7 linked regions of the Homo sapiens genome follow. The protein of the gene in region 3 purifies or fractionates together with the protein of the main gene of each other region. This does not show direct contact. Each region holds a gene or a part of one and is shown on either strand. Other genes may lie near its edges. The genes, in order: CPOX, MVK, WARS1, CALU, CTPS2, HERC4 and FLNC.

Evidence for each region.
Region 1: the proteins of WARS1 (region 3) and CPOX fractionate together in Homo sapiens (co-fractionation; one large-scale study listed by BioGRID). This does not show direct contact.
Region 2: the proteins of WARS1 (region 3) and MVK fractionate together in Homo sapiens (co-fractionation; one large-scale study listed by BioGRID). This does not show direct contact.
Region 4: the proteins of WARS1 (region 3) and CALU fractionate together in Homo sapiens (co-fractionation; one large-scale study listed by BioGRID). This does not show direct contact.
Region 5: the proteins of WARS1 (region 3) and CTPS2 fractionate together in Homo sapiens (co-fractionation; one large-scale study listed by BioGRID). This does not show direct contact.
Region 6: the proteins of WARS1 (region 3) and HERC4 fractionate together in Homo sapiens (co-fractionation; one large-scale study listed by BioGRID). This does not show direct contact.
Region 7: the proteins of WARS1 (region 3) and FLNC fractionate together in Homo sapiens (co-fractionation; one large-scale study listed by BioGRID). This does not show direct contact.

What each region holds. Positions count from the first base shown.
Region 1 is NC_000003.12:98,590,812-98,594,922, reverse strand, and holds the start of CPOX (oxygen-dependent coproporphyrinogen-III oxidase, mitochondrial precursor), read left to right. Parts: upstream 1-1,311; 5' UTR 1,312-1,418; coding exon 1,419-1,974; intron 1,975-3,767; coding exon 3,768-3,911; intron 3,912-4,111. UniProt on the Homo sapiens protein: Catalyzes the aerobic oxidative decarboxylation of propionate groups of rings A and B of coproporphyrinogen-III to yield the vinyl groups in protoporphyrinogen-IX and participates to the sixth step in the heme biosynthetic pathway.
Region 2 is NC_000012.12:109,580,294-109,583,793, forward strand, and holds part of MVK (mevalonate kinase), read left to right. Parts: intron 1-1,101; coding exon 1,102-1,257; intron 1,258-3,500. UniProt on the Homo sapiens protein: Catalyzes the phosphorylation of mevalonate to mevalonate 5-phosphate, a key step in isoprenoid and cholesterol biosynthesis.
Region 3 is NC_000014.9:100,361,848-100,365,347, reverse strand, and holds part of WARS1 (tryptophan--tRNA ligase, cytoplasmic), read left to right. Parts: intron 1-3,426; coding exon 3,427-3,500. UniProt on the Homo sapiens protein: Catalyzes the attachment of tryptophan to tRNA(Trp) in a two-step reaction: tryptophan is first activated by ATP to form Trp-AMP and then transferred to the acceptor end of the tRNA(Trp).
Region 4 is NC_000007.14:128,759,859-128,763,358, forward strand, and holds part of CALU (calumenin isoform a precursor), read left to right. Parts: intron 1-3,500. UniProt on the Homo sapiens protein: Involved in regulation of vitamin K-dependent carboxylation of multiple N-terminal glutamate residues. Seems to inhibit gamma-carboxylase GGCX. Binds 7 calcium ions with a low affinity.
Region 5 is NC_000023.11:16,688,670-16,692,169, reverse strand, and holds part of CTPS2 (CTP synthase 2), read left to right. Parts: intron 1-549; coding exon 550-630; intron 631-2,568; coding exon 2,569-2,720; intron 2,721-3,500. UniProt on the Homo sapiens protein: Catalyzes the ATP-dependent amination of UTP to CTP with either L-glutamine or ammonia as the source of nitrogen. Constitutes the rate-limiting enzyme in the synthesis of cytosine nucleotides.
Region 6 is NC_000010.11:68,072,484-68,076,646, forward strand, and holds the start of HERC4 (probable E3 ubiquitin-protein ligase HERC4), read right to left. Parts: upstream 2,801-4,163; 5' UTR 2,661-2,800; exon of another isoform or gene 1,204-2,660; 5' UTR 1,174-1,203; exon of another isoform or gene 704-1,173; 5' UTR 626-703; coding exon 400-625; intron 1-399. UniProt on the Homo sapiens protein: Probable E3 ubiquitin-protein ligase involved in either protein trafficking or in the distribution of cellular structures. Required for spermatozoon maturation and fertility, and for the removal of the cytoplasmic droplet of the spermatozoon.
Region 7 is NC_000007.14:128,850,906-128,854,405, forward strand, and holds part of FLNC (filamin-C), read left to right. Parts: coding exon 1-38; intron 39-326; coding exon 327-455; intron 456-495; exon of another isoform or gene 496-549; coding exon 550-723; intron 724-1,685; coding exon 1,686-1,847; intron 1,848-1,922; coding exon 1,923-2,126; intron 2,127-2,379; exon of another isoform or gene 2,380-2,492; intron 2,493-2,563; coding exon 2,564-2,716; intron 2,717-2,809; coding exon 2,810-2,932; intron 2,933-3,068; coding exon 3,069-3,311; intron 3,312-3,500.

The sequences.
Region 1 (4,111 bases), on a different chromosome or scaffold from region 3:
TATCTACTACTAGAAATTAAAATCATCCCGGAGACTTATGGGACAAATTAGCCCATGACAATAGTTCTCACACTTTTACGTCCAGGAACCATGGAGCTGTGGTATGGTTACAGGGGAGACAAAGACCTGCCTGTCAAATCTATTAGCTTCTTTCCTCATTTCTTTAAAGGGTGGGGGAAGGGAGACAGAGTAGGAGGAAGTGTGGATATTTGCCTTGCCTAGTTTGTAGCAGTTGTTGTAAGTATTAAACGTGAGCAATATTTGGGAGCACCCTACAGTAGTAGAATAACTATTTTTTAAATTCTTATTTGTTAATCACCAAAACACACCAAGTCAGGAATTTTCTACTGGTTAACCAAAACAGTCACGTTGCTTTTCCTTTTTCTAAAATAATCAAGTAGGCACTATAGAAGCAAGGCCTGGGGAAACCTTTTTTTTTTTTTTTTTTTTCTGAGACAGAGTCTCACTCTGTCACCCAGGCTGGAGTGCAGTGGTGCGATCTCGGCTCACTACAACCTCTGCCTCCCGGGTTCAAGCGATTCTCCTGCCTCAGCCTCCCGAGTAGCTGAGCCTACAGGTGCACGCCGCCACGCCCGGCTATTTTTTTGTAGTTTTAGTAGAGACAGGGTTTCACCATGTTGGCTGGTCTCGAACTCCTGACCTCATGTGATCCAACCGCCTCGGCTTTCCAAAATGCTAGCATTACAGGCTTGAGCCACCGCGCCCGGCCCCAGCCTGGGGAAATCTTAAGGACAGAACTGTGATGTGGACTCGATCACAGAAAGTCTTCTCCTCGACTCTCTTCCGAGTCCATTACTAGCTTCTCCCACTCTCTTTAGAAAACCATCCTTCAGCAAAGAGTTTCCCAGCCTGCCCATCCCCTCTAAAAACTCTAGAGGACCAGGACCCAGGGCGAAGGGCGGGTCTATACAGATCCTGAGCCAGGCTCTGTATTCGCAAATCCTGTTTGAAAATGTAAGCGGGACTGGGATCTCTGCCACATTTCCGCCCCAGTCCGCCCTCAGCCTCCCAGCCCTACTCTATCTTCTCTCCTTGGCTGAGTAAACAGCCGACCCGAGGTTGTACGTGACAAGAAAGCCTCTTTTATCTCTCCCGTCCCTTCCACAGCACCGTCCCCGCCCCACTCTCTTCCCTTCGGACCAGCCCTTCTGGGCGCGTCGGATTCTTATCTCCCGCCCCGCGCAGGGACGCCGCAGGCGGCGATAGGATCCGGACTACAGCTCCCAGCGCGCCCCAGTTCCCGCCCCCGCCTCCGGAGCCCGACGCTGCAGCGGCTCTTCTCGAAAGGTTCTTTCCGCCTGTGCAGCTCGCCGGCTCAATACTCCGGGGGTCTGGGTGGGGGGCTCAAACGCAGGGCTCTGGGACGCAGGCACTGCTCCAGGTGATAGTGCGGGAACATGGCCTTGCAGCTGGGCAGGCTGAGCTCGGGCCCCTGCTGGCTCGTGGCGCGGGGCGGCTGCGGAGGGCCCCGCGCCTGGTCCCAGTGCGGCGGCGGAGGGCTCCGAGCCTGGTCCCAGCGCAGCGCAGCCGGACGCGTCTGCCGGCCCCCTGGCCCGGCTGGCACGGAGCAGAGCCGCGGGCTGGGGCACGGCTCGACGTCGAGAGGCGGCCCCTGGGTGGGGACAGGGCTGGCCGCGGCGCTGGCGGGGTTGGTGGGGCTGGCCACCGCCGCCTTCGGGCATGTGCAGCGGGCGGAGATGTTGCCTAAGACCTCGGGGACGCGGGCCACTTCGCTGGGGAGGCCGGAGGAGGAGGAGGATGAGCTGGCCCACCGCTGCAGCAGCTTCATGGCCCCGCCTGTGACCGACCTGGGCGAGCTGCGAAGGAGGCCGGGCGACATGAAGACCAAGATGGAGCTGCTGATTCTGGAGACCCAGGCCCAGGTGTGCCAGGCTCTGGCACAGGTAGACGGGGGCGCCAACTTTTCTGTGGACCGGTGGGAGAGGAAGGAAGGTAAGGAGGCCGGCCCCTGGCGGGAGTTGGAGACAGGGAAAAAGGGTCAGGTTCCAGGTTGCAGACAGAAAATATAATAGTTCACAATATGGGATGGGGTAGGTAGGGGGTACCCACAGAGAGGCCGCTTGGTTAGAGGCCGCTGATAAAAAGATGGACACGAAAGGGTCACTAGCCCTCTGCTTGCAGGTATGGACCCGGATCAGCTGTCACTGTAGTACTGCATTTCAAAATCTTTGCAATTCCGTAGCAGCATTTTTTTGTAGAACTCTTAAGGGGTATTTGCAGCTAACAAGCTTAGATGTCCAAAGTTCGTTACTGAACATAAATTTCAATAGATTATGGAACACATTTTCTCTCCTTCTCTGGGTGAATTTGCCCTTTTTCCTCTTTAGGAGATGGAAAGAACTCATCTCCTGTGCGCTAAGTGTCGGCTAAACTCCTCCAGCCAGGATGTCATTGTGTCAGAATCTTCCCACTTCTTTTTACTGTTACACAAGATATATTTGATTCGTTTCTCAGTAGCACTACCAAATGCACGCATCAGATTTCCTGCTAGGAAAATCTTCTCTTCCAATATCAAAATACTTGAGCATCAAAACCCAGTTCTCGTAGAGGCGTACATTCATGACCATGTTGTTGCCCATACAGTGAAACCCCACATCTTGAGTGGAAACTTGAAAGATTCCTGACTTTTCCTAGCTGGAAATACAACAGCAGCTTCTCACCGGCAGATTTTGAGCTGTGATACTGACACATCTATATTAAATGAAGTTCAGTCTAGTTTTCCATCTTATGTTTTCAAGCAAAGACCACTGAACCAGGACACAACCTCAAGTACTAGACCAGCTGTGTGATCCTCAGAAGTTACTTTTTTATGGCTGTTTTCCCATCTATGAAATATATATGTATTTCATCTCTTTTAATCCTCATACTACATATATATATATATATATCCATATACATATATATATATATATATGGATGGAATATATGTGAAGTGCTTAGAATATTGTCTGAAGCATAGACAGCATTTAGACAAATTGTTGCAGCCACTTGTCAGCAGTTTGATCTTGGATAAGATGTTTTGCCCCTCTGGTCCTCAGTTTTCTCATTTGGAATATATGAGGGTTGTACTGGATCATCTTATGTCCCATCCAGCTCTAAATGTTCTTAGAAATAAAACAAGCCAAACATGAACTTTCATGAAACATTGCCCTTGCAGTGACCCTAATACCTTAAGAAAAAAAATTAGTAAGGCTGATACACGTGAATACTAATGTGCGTCTCACTCACTCTAAGGTTCTGAATCCCTTCAGAATTTGATTACCTACTGTTTCTTAATTGCTTGTAAATTAAAAGGCAAGCAGCCCACTGAGAAAGAAATTTTTGAAACAATATAGATCTCTTAAATTCAGTAATAATAGAACACCCTTCAAGTCTACCCATTCCTATTTTTAACCTTAGCTTTCTCTCATATATCATAACTGATAGATGCCATTCTGAACAGTAGAATCTGAAGGGAGAATATTCCAGTGATTTATTTTAGATGATGGCAGGAGAATGTTGAAGAAATATTCAGTTTAGTGATATGAGAAGGTCTAGTATTTGCCCAATATTAATAGCATATGTCATAAAGCTAAGCTAGTTATCTAATTGTATTGTACATAAAATGATAAATACACTGATATAAAAGATTTGGGAAACGGGAAAATAACCATCTTCATGCAAGTGTTGCTTTCAGTTTTGCACATACTCTTACATTCTCTCCTTTTTTACATTTCTATACACAGGAGGTGGCGGCATCAGCTGTGTACTTCAAGATGGGTGTGTTTTCGAAAAGGCTGGGGTGAGCATTTCTGTTGTTCATGGAAATCTTTCAGAGGAAGCTGCAAAACAAATGAGAAGCAGAGGAAAAGTTCTGAAGACTAAAGATGGTAAATCAGACAGTCTTGATAGTCTCTAATAGTCCCTGCAAACCTTATTTTGCCCACAAGTTTTATTTATAAAATAAATATTGCTTCTGAAAAAAGCCATTCGGGTTCATATGCCGCACGTTGACAAATACTTTTTTAAAATTATGTTTTTAAGTGACAAATTAAAAAGCAGCTTTTGAAAATTGACTTGGAAATCATAT
Region 2 (3,500 bases), on a different chromosome or scaffold from region 3:
AGTCTCACTGTGTTGCCCAGGCTGGTCTCAAACTCCTGGGCTCATGTGATCCAACTGCCTTGGCCTCTGAAAGTGCTGGGATTAGAGGCATGAGCGACTGCACCCGGCCCCAGCCTCTCTGTTGTTGTTTTTGTTGTTTTTGTTTTTGTCCAGAACCCAAAGGGAAAAAAACCTCAAGGGGGCAGCCCTTCCCTTGAGCAGCAGATGCTGGCTCAGTGGCCAGGCTCTATGCTGAGGACACATTCGGAAACGGCCTGATACTTGCCGTCCGAAGCAGAATTTCAACTTGAGAGAGGCATGTCCCCTTAAGTGGGTGAGGGGCATTCCAGAATCTTCCAGGCTGGGTGGGGTGGGTACGTGGAATTTGAAGACGCACATTATTACAATTTTTCTATTTGGGAAATGGGAAAAGCACTTCGTGGAAATTACCAAACATGAAGTTTGACAGTTCTTGCTTGGGGGAAATACATGTAAGATGTAGCGATTCGGACCTTTCTGGTGATCAAAAGCAGACCCGTGTTACACATGGTTGGGGAGCACCGTCTGGCGGGAGAGGCCCCGGTGAACACACAATCCTAGTGTGCGGTGGTGAGGCAGCGGTGGAGGGAGGGAGGGCAGGCGGGGGTCCTAGAAGGGGAGCCAGGAGGGTCTTTGTGGGCAGCTACGGAAAGTGTCACAGTGGAAGCGACATTTGATAAGGCCTTGAGAGATGGGTAGGGATTTCTCTGTGGGATAAGGAGGTGCACGGCTATTGCAGGCAGAGGGGCCAGCCTGTGCTCAGAGCAGGCCCACAGAAAAGCCTAGCATGTGGGCACAGGAAGGAGGTGGGAGAAAGGGGTTGACAGCTTGCCAGGTGCTTCTGGGAAGGGCTCTGGTTGAATGACCCAGGGATTTAAATGAACTTGATACCTGTTTTCTAGTTGTCTGATTCAGCATGAGTTCCTGATGTTCAATAGGGATACATTTGGGGTCAGGAATTCTCCCCCAGTTGAGAAAACTGGACCAGATGCTTGGAGTCAGGCCTGGGCCTGGCCCCTGGTTCAGTGCTGGCACCCCACTGCCCTGCGGGAGAGTCACGTTTCACACCCTGGTGTGTTTCAGGGCCCTGCCGAGCCTGGATATCGTAGTGTGGTCGGAGCTGCCCCCCGGGGCGGGCTTGGGCTCCAGCGCCGCCTACTCGGTGTGTCTGGCAGCAGCCCTCCTGACTGTGTGCGAGGAGATCCCAAACCCGCTGAAGGACGGGGATTGCGTCAACAGGTAACCATGGTCCTTACCTGGCCAGTGTCCCTCCCGCACGGCAGGACAGGGACGTGGCTTCTCTCACTGAGACCTCACCACCTCCCTGTGAGGTGAGAGGTGTCATAGTGGCCATTTTAACATGAGGAAGCTGAGCCCCGAGAGGTCAAATGGCTGGCCCAGGGCCACACAGCTAGTGCTGGCAGAGTGGGATTTGAACTCAGAGTCTGAGCTTTTCTCTCCTGCTCTCCACCACCTCTGCTCACCCCCATCTTGGCTCTGTTGGTTTCAAGCGCCCATGGTATGGTAGAAAGAGCTGGAGTCCAGATCTAGAGGGCAGCAGGTTAGATGAACCCTCCCACCTCTGCATTGACTCAGGCTAGGACAGTGTTCTCCTCTGTATGGTAATGACAGTGCCCTAGGGGTGATTGTCCAGTTTTACCACATGGTTATGAAAGAAACTAAGAGTTTGCTGAGAAATCCACATTAGGGGGTGTGCCCATTAGACTAGGGCATCTCTCCTCCTACGGGGCCGTCTCCACGGAGGGCGTGTCACCTCTCTGCGTTCCTATTGACCACGTGAGTCAGTGAGGCCTGTCCAGACAGGCTTGACCACAGACCATTTCTATCATTAGGAGAATGTTCCTTGAGAAACCACCCAGTGCGCAGAGGTTACGCAGTTTGTCCCAGGACCAGGAGTTGTGGATGAGGCCCCCAAATGCAGAGCTCTGTCCTCTTCCTGGGCTTGTTTTTGTTTTGTTTTGTTTTGTTTTCTGAGCTTGGTTTTTTTGTTTGTTTGTTTGTTTGTTTGTTTGTTTGTTTTTTGAGATGGAGTCTCGCTCTGTCACCCAGGCTGGAGTGCAGTGGTGTGATCTTGGCTCACTGCAACCTCTGCCTCCAGGTTCAAGTGATTTTCCACGGGCCAAAGGACTGGCCCTGTCTTTCAAAAGGTGGAGGGTGACTGTGTGTGTGCACTTGCATGTGTGTGTGTTCTTATGCTGCTTCTAACCATTTCTCCCACCTTCCCCTGAAGGCCAGTCATTCCTTCTCAGAACCCTTAGGGAGAGTAGACCTCCCACCCCACCCCACCCCACCACACCCCACCCATCATGTGTTTCTGAGTCGGAAAGGACTGGAGCCCAGTCTCCTTTGAAGACTCAAATCTGAGCCCCCTAAAAAACAAACTGTGTAGAGCAGGAGGAAGACTCACATTTGTTGAGAGGGCCAGGCCCTGGGCTAGGTCAGCTGCCTGAGTTACCTTCCCCCGCCTCCATCACTCACTTCATCCCAGGCACGCTGCCACCTGTTGGTCCCTGGGAAGGGCCAGCCAGCTCTGGTGTGGTTCCAGTGCTGCACAAGTGGTGTGTCTGGAATGCACCCCACACACACACCTTGCCCAGCTGGCTCCCCTTGTCCTTCAGGCACCACCACCCCGCCCCAGCCCCCAGCAATTCAGCCCATCGTACTCTTACAGAAACACCTGGTTTGTTTTTGTTTTTGTTTTTTTAACTATATTATCATTTATTAAATGTAATTAGGTAGCTCTGGATCCTTGGTCTGTTTTTTTTTTCTTTTATTATTATTATACTTTAAGTTTTAGGGTACATGTGCACAATGTGCAGGTTAGTTACATATGTATACATGTGCCATGCTGGTGTGCTGCACCCATTAGCTCATCATTTAGCATTAGGTATATCTCCTAATGCTATCCCTCCCCTCTCCCCCCATCCCACCACAGTCCCCAGAGTGTGATGTTCCCCTTCCTGTGTCCATGTGTTCTCATTGTTCAATTCCCACCTATGAGTGAGAATATGCGGTGTTTGGTTTTTTGTTCTTGCGATAGTTTACTGAGAATGATGATTTCCAATTTCATCCATGTCCCTACAAAGGACATGAACTCATCATTTTTTATGGCTGCATAGTGTTCCATGGTGTATATGTGCCACATTTTCTTAATCCAGTCTATCATTGTTGGACATTTGGGTGGGTTCCAAGTCTTTGCTATTGTGAATAGTGCTGCAATAAACACACGTGTGCATGTGTCTTTATAGCAGCATGATTTATAGTCCTTTGGGTATATACCCAGTAATGGGATGGCTGGGTCAAATGGTATTTCTAGTTCTACATCCCTGAGGAATCGCCACACTGACTTCCACAATGGTTGAACTAGTTTACAGTCCCACCAACAGTGTAAAAGTGTTCCTATTTCTCCACATCCTCTCCAGCACCTGTTGAGAAACACCTGCTTTGAAGTCACATATTGC
Region 3 (3,500 bases):
TCAGCCTCCCAAAGTACTGGGATGACAGGTGTGAGCCACCACGCCCGGCCCGACTTCCGACACTTTTAACTCCTGTTATCTGTTATCTTTTCAAACACCTTGCTTGTCACCAGATTGTGTCAACCATCTCACATTCCCCAGTAGTTTACTTTGACTATTTGGGACCCTGATTTAAATCATTATTTGTGTGTGTGTGTGTGTGTGTGTGTGTGTGTGTGTGTGTATTTTTTGAGACAGGGTCTCGCTCTTTCCACGTTGGAGTGCAGTGGTGCAATCCTAGCTCAGTGCACCCTCAAACTCCTGGGCTCCCACCTTAGCCTGCCAAGTTGCTGGAATTATAGATGCAAGCCACTGCACCCAGCTCATATTTTAAATGAAATAAATAGTACTGAAAGAAAGTAATGTCAAAAAAAAGTTACTTTTTTACAGAAAGAGATTTACTCACCAGGTAGGCCTCAAACGATTAAACCAAGTTGTTTTAAAACAAAATTATAAAATAAATAAAAGACCCAGTGGGGTTATGTAAGCCCATCATTTTGGGAAGTTGACAGTGGTATTTTTGTCCATTTAATATTAAATTTGAATAACATTTAGTAAATGTTTTTAGTTAGTAATTCTTAGTGACTGCAGTTATGTTCATTATTTTAGTCAACTTAATACATTTTATAATAACTCTTCCAAGTGTATTATTTGACTAATGCAATTGGCTGGCACACGTTGAAGACATCAGAGGTTGCACAATGAGACCAGAGTTAAGTGGTGAAAAATTCAGAAGTACATTTGTATCTGACCCTGAAATGTCTTGGTAGTAGAAGCACTTGATGTTTTGGAAATTTTAAAAATTAACTTTTAGCAAAATAGTGTGAGCCACATTGGGAGTGCCAGTTCTAAGAGAGGGCACCTTGAGCTCTTTCTTCTCCTGCCATTTATCTAGGCCATGGACCTTGAAGGTCTTTTCTGCTCCAGTGTATCTAAAGAATAAGATCCACATCCTTCAGTAGCAGCAGCTCATTAAAGCGGCAAGTTTCCTAGGGGGAAATAAGTCAGCATCTGAGGGCTGTGAGGGGAAATAGTTTGAGCAGGACTAAAGAAGCAATGCTAGGTCTTAGGTATTAAGAAAGAGAGCAGAGCCTTTTTCTTCTTCTCCTTTTTGTTTAAGTAACTTCTAAAATCAAAATATACCATTCATATAGAAAAACATGCTGATCATAAGCACAAGCAGGCACCTCACTGAATTTTCACAAAATGACCACACCTGTGTAACCAGCACCCAAATCAACAGCAAGCAGAGAGCACCTAGAAGCCACCCTCACGCGCCTCAGCCTCTGCCATGACTCCTCCCACCAGGGGTAGCTCTACCTGGGTTTGAACTGTATGTAATACAGTCTTGTGTCTGGCTTTTTTTTCTGAACATCAGCTTTTGGCGAGGCTCCGTGGCTCATGCCTATAATCCCAGCACTTAGGAGGCCAAGGCAGGAGGATCGCTTCAGGCCAAGAGTTTGGGACCAGCCTGGATAATATAGTGAGACCCTGTCTCTACAAAAAATTTAAAAATTAGCCAGACATGGTGGCACACACCTGCAGTCCCAGCTACTCAGGAGACTGAAGTGAGACCCTGTCTAAAAAAAACTGATGTTCTGGGTTTTTTGTGGGGTGGGGATCTCACTTCATCACCCAGGTTGGAGTGCAGTGGTGCAATCTCGGCTCACTGCAACCTCTGCCTCCCTGGCTCAAGCAATCCTCTGACTTCAGCCTCCCGATGAGCTAGGAACACAGGTGTGTGCCACCACACCTGGCTAATTTTTTCTATTTTTGGTAGAGACAGGGTTTTGCCATGTTGCCTAGGGTGGTCTCGAACTTATGAGCTCAGGCGATCCGCCCGCCTTGGCCTCCCAAAGTGCTGGGATTACAGGTGTGAGCCACTGCACCCAGCTAACATCAGCTTTTGAATCCTGTTTCAGTGTCCTGGTTCAGACACTGATTAAGACTGATTATAAGAAAATAGACAAGGTAAGCCTGCTTGTCTTATTTTGGTGCTATTCCAAAATGCAGATGGTCCTTGAGCAGGGACATTGGTTAAATGTTTGACTTTCGCAGAGCCTCCTAGTTACAAGCAGAATTAGACCAGATAGAGTATGAAATGTCAACAAAGCTAGTTATTAAGTGATATTGACTGCAGTGTACTTCAAAGCAAGGTAAGCCTTCCCATAGATAATTGGATAGATTATACGTACTAAACTGTTATTTTTTGCAAGTACTGAGCCTAGGTACTACAGAAATGAGATGGGTGGAACATACTTAACTATCTAACCTGGGCAAACATCTCATCTATGAATCGTATCCATTGGGTTACTGATTCCACAAATCTGGCTCATTTTAATGATGAGTCTCAGATAATTTTGTAGTTTGAAACACAGATTACTCCAGAATCACAGTCCTTTATGGCCCAAGTGCTATATCTGATGGAATAGTTATCTCTGAATGGAGGTTGGTGTTTATAGAACATTCTGTATATGGTAAAAGGAATTTAAGGAGATTTAAAAGAAAGAATGTTCTGTATAAACTGTAAGTGGAAATGTTTGTATTTCCCTTGGTAAGCAAATTGGGCTGTGTATATTCTTTGTTTGTGATCTAATCCAGCAAGGCCAATTACCAGAATAGAGCTTTAGGGCATAGCATGACTAATCAGCTTAATTAGGCCTGCTTTTCTAAACACCAGGCTTCCAGGGGTGGCCACTATGGACTCCTGCAAAAGAGTCTTTAATACATTTCCAGACTACCCAAGGGTACATTTTACCTTTGTTTTTTTTTTTTCAAGATAGTTTGATAAGACTCCAAAATGTGATGATGTAACTATTTCCCAGTGAATCCCTCCTTAATTTATAACCTGAGAGCCTACATTTTTTGTCCTTGCTTTTATCTGTTTTAGTTGCTCTTACTATCCTTAGTGGCATCATTGGTTAAGTTAACGTAAATATTCATCTCAACCTGTGTGGTATGTAAAAACTAGTTCCAATGCAGAACTCCAGGAATCTCAATTAAAGGAGCTTGTCACACACGTTCTCTGGCATCAGTGGTGTTTGAGAAATCTTTAGCATATGAACTTTGTCATAAATGACAGTGTATATTGTGTCACTGCTACTGTCCCAAAGTGTTCATGGTAGCACTAGAATAACAGATAAAAATGAAGTGTTTTCGAGCCAATGACTTGCTGTGATTCTATGGGTAAGCTCCTCTACCTCTCTGAGTCTCAGATTCTTGAGCTGGAAAAGGACAGTGACAACAATACCTGCCTTGTAGGGTTGTGACACTAACTAAGGTAACACGTGTAAAAGCATTTAACACAGTGCCTGCCACAGAATAGGCATTCAGCACATATCAGCTATTAGTAATACTTTTAGCCATCCCTTTTATTTCCTCTCTCAGGATGAAATTGATTCTGCAGTAAAGATGTTGGTGTCATTAAAAATGAGCTACAAAGCTGCCGCGGGGGAGGATTA
Region 4 (3,500 bases), on a different chromosome or scaffold from region 3:
CTCTGCTTTTAGTGTTTTTCTTAGAAAAGCTGAGAAGCTTTGAAAGGTGTATTTGCTGGCTGGGCACAGTGGCTCATGCCTGTAATCCCAACACTGGGAGGCCGAGGCGGGCAGATCACCTGAGGTCAGGAGTCCAAGTCCAGCCTGGCCAACATGGGGAAACCCCGTCTCTACTAAAAATACAAAAAAATTAGTTGGGTGTGGTGGCGGGCGCCTGTAATCCCAGCTACTCAGGAGGCTGAGGCAGAAGAATCGCTTGAACCCAGGAGGCGGAGGTTGCAGTGAGCCGAGAACACGCCATTGCACTCCAGCCTGGGCAACAAGAGTGAAACTGTCTCAAAAAAAGAAAGAAAGAAAGATGTATTTGCCCATAGAAACAATTTACTCCAAGGGTCAATTCTCACTAGCTCATTAGCTGTCACCAGATCATTAACCAGACCAGTGTGATAGTGGGTTGTGATAAAGTATCCGTAGCCACATTGCCCAATCAAAATATAAATGTGAGCCCCATATGTAATTTTAACTTTTCTAATAGCCACATTAAAAAGTAAAAAGAAACAGATGAAATTTCAGTAGTTATTTAACCTAATATTCTAAAACTCTATAATTTCCACTTAATGTAAATTATTGAGGGTTTTTTTTTAATACTTAAAGCACATCCCAGCCACATTTCAAGTGCTTAATAAGCACCTGTGGCTACCATCCTCAACAGCACAGATATAGTGTATCCTGCATGCTCTATGGAACTGATGGTAAAGAGTTGCAGGGGGCTGGGCACGGTGGCTCACGCCTGTAATCCCAGCACTTTGGGAGGCCGAGGCGGGCGGATCACAAGGTCAGGAGATCGAGACCATCCTGGCTAACACAGTGAAACCCTGTCTCTACTAAAAATACAAAAAATTAGCCGGGTGTAGTGGCAGGCGCCTGTAGTCCCAGCTACTGGGGACGCTGAGGCAGGAGAATGGCATGAACCCAGGAGGCAGAGCTTGCAGTAAGCTGAGATCATGCCACTGCACTCCAGCCGGGGCTACAGAGCGAGACTCCGTCTCAAACAAACAAACAAAAAAAAGAGTTGCAGGGAGCCCAGACTGACATAGGGAAACCCAGGGAAAGGAGATAGGGAATAGATTAAAAGATGGATAAATAAATGACGGGGAGTTGCTGATCCCTCTTGTAGCCATTCCTTTTTACTGTGTTCTGTTCATATTTTCTCTCTGATTCTCTGACTACTTTCCTTTTGTTTTTTAAGTTTCTCCCTTTTGACATTTCCCTTTTTAGTTGTCTAAATTTTTTTAAAAAAATTGTTTTGGATGTCACACCTTCAAGGCTAATTTCTCCCAAGTAAAGCTCTGTTTTATTATCATCAGACTAATTTTAAGATATTCTCATTGCTTTAAAAAAAAAAAGCTGTCTTTCTTACCAAGTAGTTGAGCAAATTGTTTCCCAATTACTGTGACAGAAATTAAAATGAGTAAAGGAGCTGGGTGTGGTGGCATACCCGGTTACTTGGGAGGCTGAGGCAGGAGGATCACTTGAGTCCAAGAGTCTGGACTATAGTCACAAGTTCATCATCAATATGGTGACCTCCTGGGAGCAGAGGATCACCAGGTTGCCTAAGGAGGAGTGAACCGGCCCGGGACAGAATCAGAGCAGGTCAAAACTGTGCTGATTAGTAGTGAGGTTGTGCCTGTGGATAGCAATTGTACTCCAACCTGAGCAACATAGCGAGACTCCATCTCTTTAGAAAAGTGAGTAAAGATGGAAAGTATAAGACTGTTACTACAAATGTCATTGTTACAAATACTTTGTTTAGAAAGATATTAGATATTTTAATATTTCACATACTTATTGTCATTTGTAATAACTTATTCTAGCACACCATTGGTTTTGTGTTTCAGATAAGCCCGTTTGTTTTTAGACCTCTGATAGTTACCTGAAATGTTTATTTGAAGCCTGAAAGGAAGACTTAATCCTTACCTCTATCACCTGTCATTAAACTGTATGGAGCAAGTCACTGCTTTACTTAGATGTTGTCTTATCATACCTGTTGTTTACATGCTAGAGTTATTCCAATTGAATTACTCCTTGACTGTTTACCTCCCTTTTCTTAGGTTCAGTGGCATACTTTGAACTTTTTAAAGAAGGATGAGCAATGGAAGATAGGATGGATGTTTTCCTAAACTGATTTTTTTTTTTTTTGGAGAAGTTTATCAGGACAGTGGATAAGTGCCTAGGTGCATTTACTGAGCCCACGTTGATGTTACTAGGGTTTTCTACTTTTAAATGATTTATCTTTTTATTCTTGGCTTTTGCCATTTTATTGCCATTGCTAAAACTGAGGAACTCATTTGAACCTCCCAAGGAGAGGAATTTTTATAACTGTTAACTACATCACTTATCAAGCATTGAGGCCAAATAAGGAGATATTTCTGTCTCCCTGTGTATCATATAGATTCAAGGGCAGAGGAGTTATATTTTGAAGCTACCAAAACTATCTTGTGCATGTGTGCTTTTTTTTTTTTTTTTTACAAGTCAGTAACTAATGCAAACACTTTTACATCTGGGATGCTGGGCTTTGTAAATCTAAAATTCTCCCAAACAGTATCTTTCAGCTTCTAGTGCCCTGTTGAAGGAGATCATGAAGAAACAAAGTTCTTCGCCTCATAAATTTAGCATTAAAAAGAAGCCCCATCAGTGCCTGTGGAAACATAGGGAAAGAAAAAAAAAAACACCCAAAGTTGTGCTGATAATTATTTTTATTTTTAAAATTTATTATAGAGCATTGCAGACGTACACAACTTATTTGTTTATTTATTTATGTTTTTTTTGAGACAGTCTTGCTCTGTCACCCAGGCTGGAGTGCAGTGGCGTGATCTCCACTCACTACAATCTCTGCCTCCCAGGTTCAGGCGATTCTTGTGCCTCAGCCTCCTGAGTAGTTGGGATTACAGGCATGCACCACCACACCTGGCTAATTTTTGTATTTTTAATAGAGGCGGGGTTTCACCATGTTGGCCAGGGTGATCTTGAACTCCTGGCCTCAAGTGATCTGACCACCTTAGCCTCCCAAAGTGCTGGGATTACAAGTGTGAGCCACTGCACCTGCCCCCAAATTAGAATAGTATAATGAATCCCCATGTACCTATGCCTAACCTCAACAACAATCAACTTACAGCCAGTTTTTTCTCAGCCACATCCACTTCCTTGCTTCCTTCTTACTTTGAAGTAAATCCCAATCATTATGTCATTTCATCTGTAAACATTGAGGTATATATGTCTAAAATATATATGTGTTTCTAAAAACATTTTTTTAAAGATAATGTCAACCCAAGAAAATTAATAATACCTTCAAATCATCAAATAGACTGAGTCTTTTAAAAATAGAAATTCGGCCGAGCATGGTGGCTCATGCCTGTAATCCCAACACTTTGGGAGGCTGAGGTGGGCGGATCACAAGGTCAGGAGTTAGACACCAGCCTGACCAACCTGGTGAAACCCCG
Region 5 (3,500 bases), on a different chromosome or scaffold from region 3:
CTGCTCTTATTTTTAGTCTAAACAGTGATGTGTCCTTATAGCAGGTGATCCAGTCATCACCAGTAGTCTCTGTCAGAGGTTGACAAATAACAGCCCACAACTTGCTTGCCTGTTTTTGTAAGTAAAGTTTTATTGGCATGCAGTCACACCCATTCATTTACATATTGTCTGTAGCTGCTTTCACACTGCACCTCAATTGAGGATCAGGACAGTGACTGTGTCACCTGCAAACCTAAAATATTTCCCATCTGGCCCTTTTGAGAAAAAGTTTGTTAACCCCGATCTAGCTCTTTTCTTGTAGTTAATGAAGCAACACTTGTGAGCCTGGACTCTGTTCACCAGAGACGTCTCGATGTTTCGAGTTCTTACTGATACACTTATGCTGAATTTGATTATACTTATATTAGTGCTCAGACCAATTTCTAATAGTCCAGTGGAATGTCCAAAGTGAACAAGTACATACTTGGCCAAGTTTCTTGTAAAAAGAAATGAATGTGGCATCCTGCTGAAAGTGAATCCTGTTTGCTGAAGCATAACTGGCTTTGACAGATTGTCTGCCGAAGTTCAACGCCCATTGAGATGGCCGTGAAGGAGAAGATTTCTATGTTTTGTCACGTGAACCCTGAACAGGTTGGTGCTGCTCTTTAGATTTTATTGTCTGGCAGGCACTTCTGCTGATGCCAGTGTTTTGTACCTCTTCAATGATCATATTACTTTTCACGGCATTTATGCAAGCACTGGGGAACCCTGATCCAACCATGATTCCCTAGCCCTTAAGTGAGATAGGATGCATGTTTCTTTGCATGATCACTCAACTTATGTCACAAAACCAGGGTGGGCTTTCTTTTCTTGAGACAGAGTGTCACTCTGTCACCCAGGCTGGAGTGCAGTGGCATGATCTCAGCTCACCGCAACCTCTGCCTCCTGGGTTCAAGCAATTCTCTTATTTTAGCCTCCTGAGCAGCTGAGATTATAGGCATGCGCCACCACGCCTGGCTAATTTTTTTGTATTTTTAGTAGAGATGGGGTTTTGCCATGTTGGCCAGGCTGGTCTCGAACTCCTGACCTCAGATGATCCGCCCGCCTCAGCCTCCCATAGTGCTGGGATTACAGGCGTGAGCCATCGTGCCCAGTACCAGGGTGGGTGTTTAACTCACAGTCAAACCTCTAGAGAGAGAACCACATGAAGCCTACTTATCATCTCTTTATCTTGTGTTTCCTTCTGGAACACTTACTGCTTTCACTCATTTCTCCTCTCTACCTGTGGCAGCTTAAGTCACCCCAAACACACGAGCACGTTGACATTCGCACTAGCTCTTCTGACTCCATCAGTGGGCTCAGTTGACTTCATTGGTACAGAAACTGTACTGTGATTTGGGCTTAGGTTCTCTGCTCTGTAGGGCTTTCCACCTTGGTATTCTGATAATTCGCTTTTCTTTTTTCTTTCCTTCTCTCATCTCTGTCTCTTGATTCCAATAAGGCTTGGTTATAAGGGATTGGAGTTACCTATAGTTTAAAGAGAGTGATATAAATGGTGCTCAGGAAAAGGGTGAGGTTTGGCAGAAATCTTTTCTTCAGATTATAACTCTGGGTTCTCTGAAGTCTAAAAATGATCAAATTGAATTTTGGCATCTTGGAAAATAGTCTGATGGAGAGCCCCCTGCCTGATGCCTCAGAGTCATTGCCGAAGTCTGAACTACTTTGAAAAATGTGATGGCAGATTGAAGGGACACTTCTGCATCTGTATGTTGATATGTTGTCATGCCATTTTGTTTGCGTCCAATCTTTTTTTTTTTTTGAGACAGAGTTTCACTATTGTCACCCAGGCTGGAATGCAGTGGTGCACTCTTGGCTCAGTGCAACCTCTGCCTCCTGGGTTCAAGCGATTCTCCTGCCTCAGCCTCCTGAGTAGCTGGGATTATAGGTGTGTGTCACCATGCCTGGCTAATTTTTGTATTTTTAGTAGAGATGGGGTTTCACCATGTTGGCCAGGCTGGTCTTGAACTCCTGACCTCAGATGATCCGCCTGCCTCAGCCTCCAAAAGTGCTGGAATTACAGGCGTGAGCCACCACACCTGACCTGTCCAATCGTTTTGTGTACACTTCTTTTTTTTTTTTGAGATACAGTCTTGCTCTGTCACCCAGGCTGGTATGCAATGGTGCGATCTCGACTCACTGCAACCTCCGCCTCCTGGGTTCCAGCGATTCTCCTGCGTCAGCCTCTTGAGTTGCTGGGATTATAGGCACATGTCACCATGCCCAGCTAATTTTTGCATTTTTAATACAGGTGGGGTTTCACCATGTTGGTCAGGCTGGTCTCGAACTCCTGACATCAGGTGATCTGCCCGCCTCGGCCTCCCATAGTGCTGGGATTAGTTTTCTAATTAAATGAAGCTAACCTTGTGCAAATTCTGATGCTAGCTTTGGTTGCTGGGTTTTTGTGTGTGCGTGTGTGTGTGTTATATCAGTGTAAATAAACTGCCAGTCTCTGCTGAATTTTGTTTCATTCTTGTGGTGGCATATTTGAATAGATCCATCTAAGTATGGTGATTTCTCATCGCCACTTAGGTCATATGTATCCATGATGTTTCTTCCACATACCGAGTTCCTGTGCTTTTAGAGGAACAAAGCATTGTGAAATATTTTAAGGAGAGATTGCACCTGCCCATCGGTGATTCTGCAAGTAATTTGCTTTTTAAGTGGAGAAATATGGCTGACAGGTAAGCGAAAGGAATTACTTGTATAATCTTTAATAATTTTTGAGTTTGGGGGTAGAACTAAGACCTACTTGAAAGGGTAAGCGTGTGTATTTGGCATTTTGCGTGTGCACATTTTGGTCTGGATATGTCTAAAGATGGAGCATACTGTTGCGGTGCTTTGCTGTATTATTTGAAGATTTCTGGAGCCTTTGATTTTGTTATACATAAACCAAAGTGAATTAAAGGAATTCGAATTCTGGAAGGAATGTTTTTTTAGCTCTGGAAGGATTCTGATTTATTTGATTTATTTGCTAGTTCATTTTTTAGTTTCTGAATATTTAAAATTTTTTTTTGTTTGTTTTCTTTTTTCTTTTTTGAGAGTCTTGCTCTGTCACCCAGGCGGGAGTGCAGTGGCACGATCTCGGCTCACTGCAACCTCCACCTCCTGGGCTCAAGTCATCCTCCCACTTCAGCCTCCTGAGTAGCTGAGACTAGAGGCACACACCACCACACCCGGCTAATATATATTTTTTTTTTTTTGTAGAGACGGGATTTTTCTATGTTACCCACACTGGTCTTGAACTCCTGGGCTCAAGTGATCTGCCCACCTTGGCCTCCCAAAGTGCTGGGATTATAGGCATGAGCCACCATGCCTGGCCTTAAACAGTTTTAAACTTCACAGGTTTTTTGTTTTGTTTTGTTTTGCTTGTTTTTAAGATTTGGCTAACTTTTCCTAAAGAAAATCATTTTGGATGGGAACTTTTGGCTATGCTAGTTTTGTTTCATCCTGCATTCATTAAC
Region 6 (4,163 bases), on a different chromosome or scaffold from region 3:
CTTCCGTCTTGTTTTCCTCCCCCCTCCCAAAGTAAGGTAAACACAGAGTAAATTATGCATTTAAAATCTATCCAGGGTGGCTGAACAGAATTTATTAAAGAGGACCTGCACACTACACACTCTGTACCAAAGATTTATATACTGCAGGCTGATTTTCTTTATTGTTTTATATCGTCATACAAAATAAGGTTTTATAATACTAGTAGTAAAAAAAAAGAAACCACAACATAAAGTACTTAGAACCATACAAATATACACATATAATGGAAATACATAACTTCTACTTTGCTTTTAAAGCTTGATAAACATATAGTTACAACTAGAGAAATTATACGATGATTCAAATTTAAAATGATATAATTATTAAAAATAGCAAATTTTAAAAACATTTCAACTTACCTGGTTTCTTTCTGGATTTTTCATGACCTAGCTGTCCTAGATCATTACATCCACATGTGTACACTGTTCCATCATCCAGAACAAACACAGTATGTCTGAGTCCACATCCTACATCTCGGACCCTTTTATTTATAAAGAAGTCACTTTTTCTGGGCTCTAGTACAATTTCTTCATCAATTCCACCCAAACCTAGCTGCCCAAAGGATGCATTTCCCCAGCACAACATGCTTGTAATTATTTTGGTCTTCCAGTTTCAATAAAAAATTCTCTTCTGAAACCCCGGAAAGTTGGAGGTACCCTATGTCTGAGGAAATAGAAAGAAGTTAATATGACTTCAAAGAAAAAAGGATGTATAATTGCTCTTTCAAGTGCTAGGCTACAATAATTGCTACATGGTAAACATTAAATATACTTTATAACATGCTACATAAGTATCATTCAGTTTCAAAAACCAATCAGTTGTATTTTTTAAAATGTATCATACAGAAATTTTTAGGGAAAATATGACACTTTCTATGATCCTTTGCAAAATTTAAAACATATTAACTAGTTTTGACTTCTGGTTATCTTGTGATAGACTAAACTAATAGGAATAAGTACCTTGATGAAATTAATCACAATTTTTTCTACTTTTTGCTTTAAATAATTTCAATGGGAACAAGAAATAAGACATCTTTCCTCTGCCCAAAAAGCAAATATACACAGTGCAAAATTTAGCCAACTGCAGAAACATAACCTTGCAATCCTAGTATAATTAAGCTTTCTAATACCTACCTCCACATCAACAGAAAATGGAGTTCTTATCTGTAACAGAAATAAAACCAATAATGGAAATTTAAAGCAATTTTCCACAATTTAAACGACTCTCCCAATTACTCTTTAGCCCAGAGAGAAAATGAAGATTCTCTTACCAAACCATAATCTTAAATCACCTCCAAAGATCCCAGATTTCAAATCAAAATACTAACATTCCAACCTCACTAATTTTAAAACTAAATCAATGTGCATAATTATAATACAGAAAAAAAAACATGCAATTTAAATATCAATTCTCTCCAAAATTCAACCTCTTTTATTACAAGTGGTAACCGGGATTAAAAAAATCACCCGTGGGCAATCTATATCTATCTATATCTCTGAGACAATTATTTAAAGATTGGCGGGGGGGAATTGCAAATAACTCCAGCACTGCAGATTTTTCAAGAATAGGAATGGATAGTCTGATGGCGAAATCTGTAGAACTTTCCAGCACACTGACTGAATATTTCCTCACTTGTAAAGAAAGACACAAATAACAGAGTCCACTTCATCTATACATACGTAGACTTTTAAACACATCGCGTTACTAAATATCATAATTACAGGAAGTCAGCCTTATTCTGTAGCAGTCATCCACATTCTTACAGAGCCTGCGAAGTTTCAACTCCAATTTTCCTATGTTCCTGTTAGCAAGTGCCCAAGGTGTCCCATTCCACGACCCATCATCCCATTAACAGAAGTTTGATTTCATTCTTTTGGGGTATCAGAACTCGATAATTCCCAAGAGTTCTGCATTGTCTTCCCATATTTAAAAACAAAATAAGAGTAATACAGGAAAATACCCCGACTTCAGCGCGCGAGGTTTAACCACCCTTTTCTTTAAAACACAGAGGCGTCCTCTCGCCAGCAACAGGTAGGGAAATGAGAAGCAGTTTAGTCCCGTCTTTCCCTGAACGTGCACCCAGATCAGCTCATGGGGACTGGGAAAGAGAAATCATCTGCACACACCCAACCTCGCAGCCAAGCAGACGACTACCGCAACCGGCCGCTCGCAACAGCTTCAGAGGCCGGCGGCCGAGGCTTGGCAGTGCGCGGCCTCAACCTGAGAGAAGCCCATCCCCAGGCAGATGAGACATTCCAGCCCCGGGGCCAGGGAGCCACAGCCCTGCCCTCGCCCCACGCCCCTCACCCCCAGGAAGCGCGGAGAAAGCGCCCTATGCCGGGCCGGCCTGCATCCGCCCAGCCCGGCCTGCCCCTCCCTAACGCCGTCACACGCCCCCGAACCCGCTGGGGCCACAACTCGCCCAAGCCCTTCAGGGTAGGGGAAGCCCAAGGTGACGGGGGGCGGCCCCTGCCCAGAGAGCAAGGCAGCGCGGTCGCTGAAGCACGTCTCCGGCTCCTGGGACCCTCCTCTGTCAGCCAGTGGCGACGATCACCAGGGCACCTCCGGCGTCTGTGCCGCTGCTCCGCTGCTCCCCTCCCCGGCCCCTGGGAAACTTTACCGGGTTCCTTAGAGAAAAGCGGACGCCACTGCTGTCCAGTCCAGAGACAGCCGTCAGCGACCCGGATGGAGCGGGCGGGGAAGAACGGGAGGCAAGCGGGGCGGAGAGCACCAGGGGTGGGGAGAGTTGGGGAAGAGACTGGGTAGGAGAAGGCAGAGGGGGAGGTGGCCACGCGAGGGAGGCGGGGGAGGGGCTGGCCGGAAGTGAACCGCAGAGCACGCGCGCGAGCCCGCCCACTTCCCGGCCCCGGCACCGGCGCCTGCGCCGAATCTTCCGGGGGGGGGGGGGGGGGGGTGGCTGGCCACAGGCGCCTGCGCAGTGTGCCGCTTTGCGTTGCTTTAAGAGGGAAAAGCCAAATACAGAAAGTTGGAGTTTGCGAAGACAAACGAAGAAGATGTCAACTGTTTTTGAGAATGCTTCGGCGTGCACAAAGCCTTTTAATGAAGAAAATCACTTTGTTTTTTGGTTTGGTTGTCTTTGTGCTCATGGATGCTAGCTAGTCTTTTTATTATTTTACTCTCTCTTTTCCCAAGGAGATTTTAAAGTAGCAGATGAAACATCACAATTATGAACATAAAGACTGGTGAAGAGTTATTTTATCCCATGGCCTCAACTGGAGCCAGTCTGAGGATGTGAGATGTGTTGATGGCAATGGCTGAAGCTACTCTACTACCACCACCACCAGTTCAGTTTCCTTGTACAGTGTTGGCTACCATCACTTTCTACACTCTCCCTGAAAGATAGGCTTGAATTGCAGGGTCTCATTCTATCAGAGAAAATTACACATTGGCTGCAGTCCCTGATTCATAAAAACGAAGTCTGGATCTCCTAGGCCAGCCTTAACTTCTTAAAAAGCAGGAGAACTTGAAACAATGCACTTTTGAAATTGTAAGTTGGGTATTGCTAGAATGAATATTCAGTACCTAGAAGAAGTTCCACAAATAGGCCATCTTTCTTTTTCTTTTCTTATTTTTATTTATTTATTTATTTATTTATTTATTGAGACAGAGTCTCGCTCTGTTCCCCAAGGCTGGAGTGCAATGGTGCGATCTCAGTTCACTGGAACTTCCGCCTTAGCCTCCTGAGTAGCTGGGACAACGGGCATGCGCCGCCATGCCCGGCTAATTTTTGCATTTTTAGTAGAGACAAGGTTTCGCCATATTGGCCAGGCTGGTCTCAAACTCGTTACCTCAGGCGATCCACCCGCCTCGGCCTCCCAAAGTGCTGGAATTACAGGCGTGAGCCACCGGTCCTGGCCTGTTTCTTTATCTCTTGTTGAAAAACATGTTTTAGATAAGAACTGTCTGTGCTAGAATATGTTCAAGTGTGTGTATTCGTGTCCTAGGCTTGCCATATAAATTAAAACAGATTCGGTGGCTTAAAACAACAGAAATTTATTGTCTCACAGTTCTGAAGACCAGTTCAAAATCAAGGTGAAAGTAAGCTTGGTTCTCTCTTGGGGTCTCTGAGAGATAATCTTTTCCAGGCTTCTCTGCTAGCTTC
Region 7 (3,500 bases), on a different chromosome or scaffold from region 3:
CCAGATGGGGATCAAGTATGACGGCAACCACATCCCTGGTGAGTTAGGGGCTGGGCTGGGCTGGGGCTTGGGTGAGAGGAGCAGGCCGTAGCTTCAGTCCTGCCTTCCCTCTTTCAACAAATATTTATTGAGCACCCGCTGTGTGCAGACACCAGGCGAGGCCCCAGGGAGGCTTATACCCTGGTGGGAAGCAGACCTCCACCAGCTGGGTCCCTACGGCACAGACGGAGGGGGTTGGCAGGGAGGCTGCTGGAAGGTGCTGGGGCCAAGGTGGGCTCAGATAATCCCTGATGCTGACCCAGCCCCCTTTTTCTCTGTATCCCCAGGGAGCCCCTTACAGTTCTATGTGGATGCCATCAACAGCCGCCATGTCAGTGCCTATGGGCCAGGCCTGAGCCATGGCATGGTCAACAAGCCAGCCACCTTCACTATTGTCACCAAAGATGCTGGAGAAGGTGAGGGAGCTGCAGGTCGCAGGCTGGGGTGGAGACTCACCAGGGGCAGGGGTGAGGGCAGGACCTCTGATCTTGGCCACACCTCCACCTACAGGGGGTCTGTCACTGGCCGTGGAGGGCCCATCCAAGGCAGAGATCACCTGTAAGGACAACAAGGATGGCACCTGCACCGTGTCCTATCTGCCGACTGCGCCTGGAGACTACAGCATCATCGTGCGCTTCGATGACAAGCACATCCCGGGGAGCCCCTTCACAGCCAAGATCACAGGTGAGGCGGGTGTATGGGCATGTACAGCCCATGAGGCACACACACCGCATACAGTGCACTCATGTGCAAGCCCAGCCCGTTCAAGTCACTCGTGACATTAGGGCAGAGGCCCTTCAAGGTGTGAGGGGTCATATTTTGATAAATGTAAAAACACTCTGTTCTCCACGGCAGCTAAGAAGCAGTCAGCCACTCCTTGTGCCTGAAAACACATTGCCTCATTTAGTCTTTGAAGTCATTTGTTTTGTTTTTGTTTTTGAGAGGGAGTCTTGCTCTGTCACCCAGGCTGGAGTACAGTGGCACGATCTCGGCTCACTGCAACCTCCGCCTCCCGGGTTCATGCCATTCTTCTGCCTCAGCCTCCCAAGTAGCTGGGACTCCAGGCGCCCGCCACCATGCCTGGCTATTTTTTGTATTTTTAGTAGAGACAGGGTTTCACCGTGTTAGCCAGGATGGTCTCGATCTCCTGACCTTGTGATCCACCTGCCTCGGCCTCCCAAAGTGCTGGGATTACAGGTGTGAGCCACCACGCCCAGCATGAAGTCACTCTTAAGAAGTTAGGGCACGGATAATCCTTTTGATAGATAAGGAACCCCTGTCCCAGAGAGGCCAAGCAACATGATTACAGCCACACAGCGAGGAAGGGGTCTGGGCGGTCCAGTCTAGTGTTTTGTTATCACAACATCATGTGACTCAGGGTTAAAATGCAGGAGGTTTCCTTTAGGGATTTAGCCCACAAGGACTGAGGCAGCCACAGTGGAATTGGGGTACAGGCCCCTCTTAGTCTCTGGCAGCTCACATGTGAGTGCAGACTGCACTTTCCAGGCCTTGGGCCTCCGTGCACCTGGGAGTGGCCCCCCGTGTCTGTTGAGTCCAGGGGGGGCTGCTCAGGAGGGTTCCTGAGCCCTGTGAGGGCAGGGCCTGCCTGGAGTCATAGCAGCCTGATGCCCCAACTCCCCCACCAGGTGATGACTCCATGAGGACCTCACAGCTGAATGTGGGCACCTCCACGGACGTGTCACTGAAGATCACCGAGAGTGATCTGAGCCAGCTGACCGCCAGCATCCGTGCCCCCTCGGGCAACGAGGAGCCCTGCCTGCTGAAGCGCCTGCCCAACCGGCACATTGGTGAGCGTGGGGCCTCACGGGGACCTCAGGGGTGGGGGCCCACAGGATGCTCTGCCTAACACCCACTTTCCACAGGGATCTCCTTCACCCCCAAGGAGGTCGGGGAGCACGTGGTGAGCGTGCGCAAGAGTGGCAAGCATGTCACCAACAGCCCCTTCAAGATCCTGGTGGGGCCATCTGAGATCGGGGACGCCAGCAAGGTGCGGGTCTGGGGCAAGGGGCTTTCCGAGGGACACACATTCCAGGTGGCAGAGTTCATCGTGGACACTCGCAATGCAGGTACCTCCTGCCCCAGAGAGCCCCCATTCCAGCGGGTGCCTCCCACAGGCACTTGTCCTCGTCCTGCCCAGCACCCCCTTGGCCGCACTCTCTCCTCCCTGAAACTTCCTGACCAGTCTGCGTCAGGATTCGCATTCTGGGGCCCCTTGCGGGAAAGTGAATGGCCCCGCATCAGTTCTCTCCCTTTTAAGAGAAAGCTCAGCTGTCCTGAGTTTCTGTCCCTCCCTTGCTCACTGGAATCCAAGAGGCTTACCTTAGGGAATTTTCCAGACCGCCTGTCCCGTGGTGCCCCCGCTCCTCCCACTGAGCCATTTTTGTTAGTGGTCACTACACACATCGGTGCCCATTCTGGGTGGAGCCTGCAGTCTGGGGAGAGGAAAGCATTGTGGCTTGGCCAGCCTAGGACTGAGGGAGATGTGTTCCTTGCTTTCCCCCAGGTTATGGGGGCTTGGGGCTGAGTATTGAAGGCCCAAGCAAGGTGGACATCAACTGTGAGGACATGGAGGACGGGACATGCAAAGTCACCTACTGCCCCACCGAGCCCGGCACCTACATCATCAACATCAAGTTTGCTGACAAGCACGTGCCTGGTAAGGCTCTGGGCAGAGGTCGGTGGCGAGAGACAGGGAGGCCAGGAGGCTGGGGCTCTGAGGTTCCTGACCCACCCTTTGTCCCCACTTCAGGAAGCCCCTTCACTGTGAAGGTGACCGGCGAGGGCCGCATGAAGGAGAGCATCACCCGGCGGAGACAGGCACCTTCCATCGCCACCATCGGCAGCACCTGTGACCTCAACCTCAAGATCCCAGGTAGAAGCCTGGAGGACCCTGGGTGGGGCGGGTGGTGGGAGAGGGCTGGCCCGGGCCAGAGCCCACCTGTCGGGCCTCCACCCTGCTTCCTCACCCCTCGCTTCCCTCCCTCACCCTGGCTCCCTTGACCACACAGGAAACTGGTTCCAGATGGTGTCTGCCCAGGAGCGCCTGACACGCACCTTCACACGCAGCAGCCACACCTACACCCGCACGGAGCGCACGGAGATCAGCAAGACGCGGGGCGGGGAGACAAAGCGCGAGGTGCGGGTGGAGGAGTCCACCCAGGTCGGCGGGGACCCCTTCCCTGCTGTGTTTGGGGACTTCCTGGGCCGGGAGCGCCTGGGATCCTTCGGCAGCATCACCCGGCAGCAGGAGGGTGAGCACCGCACACTGGGCCGGCCGGGTCCTCACGGCGGGATGGGAGGGTGCTGCGGACCAGGCTTGATGCTGGCAGACTGGCCCCGAAGGCCAGGGCAGGTCTGAGCAGAGGAGGAGGTTTAACTGATGGGGGAGGGAAGGGCCAGGGCTAGGAGGAATCCCAGTGTTGCCCTGACATCCCCCAAAC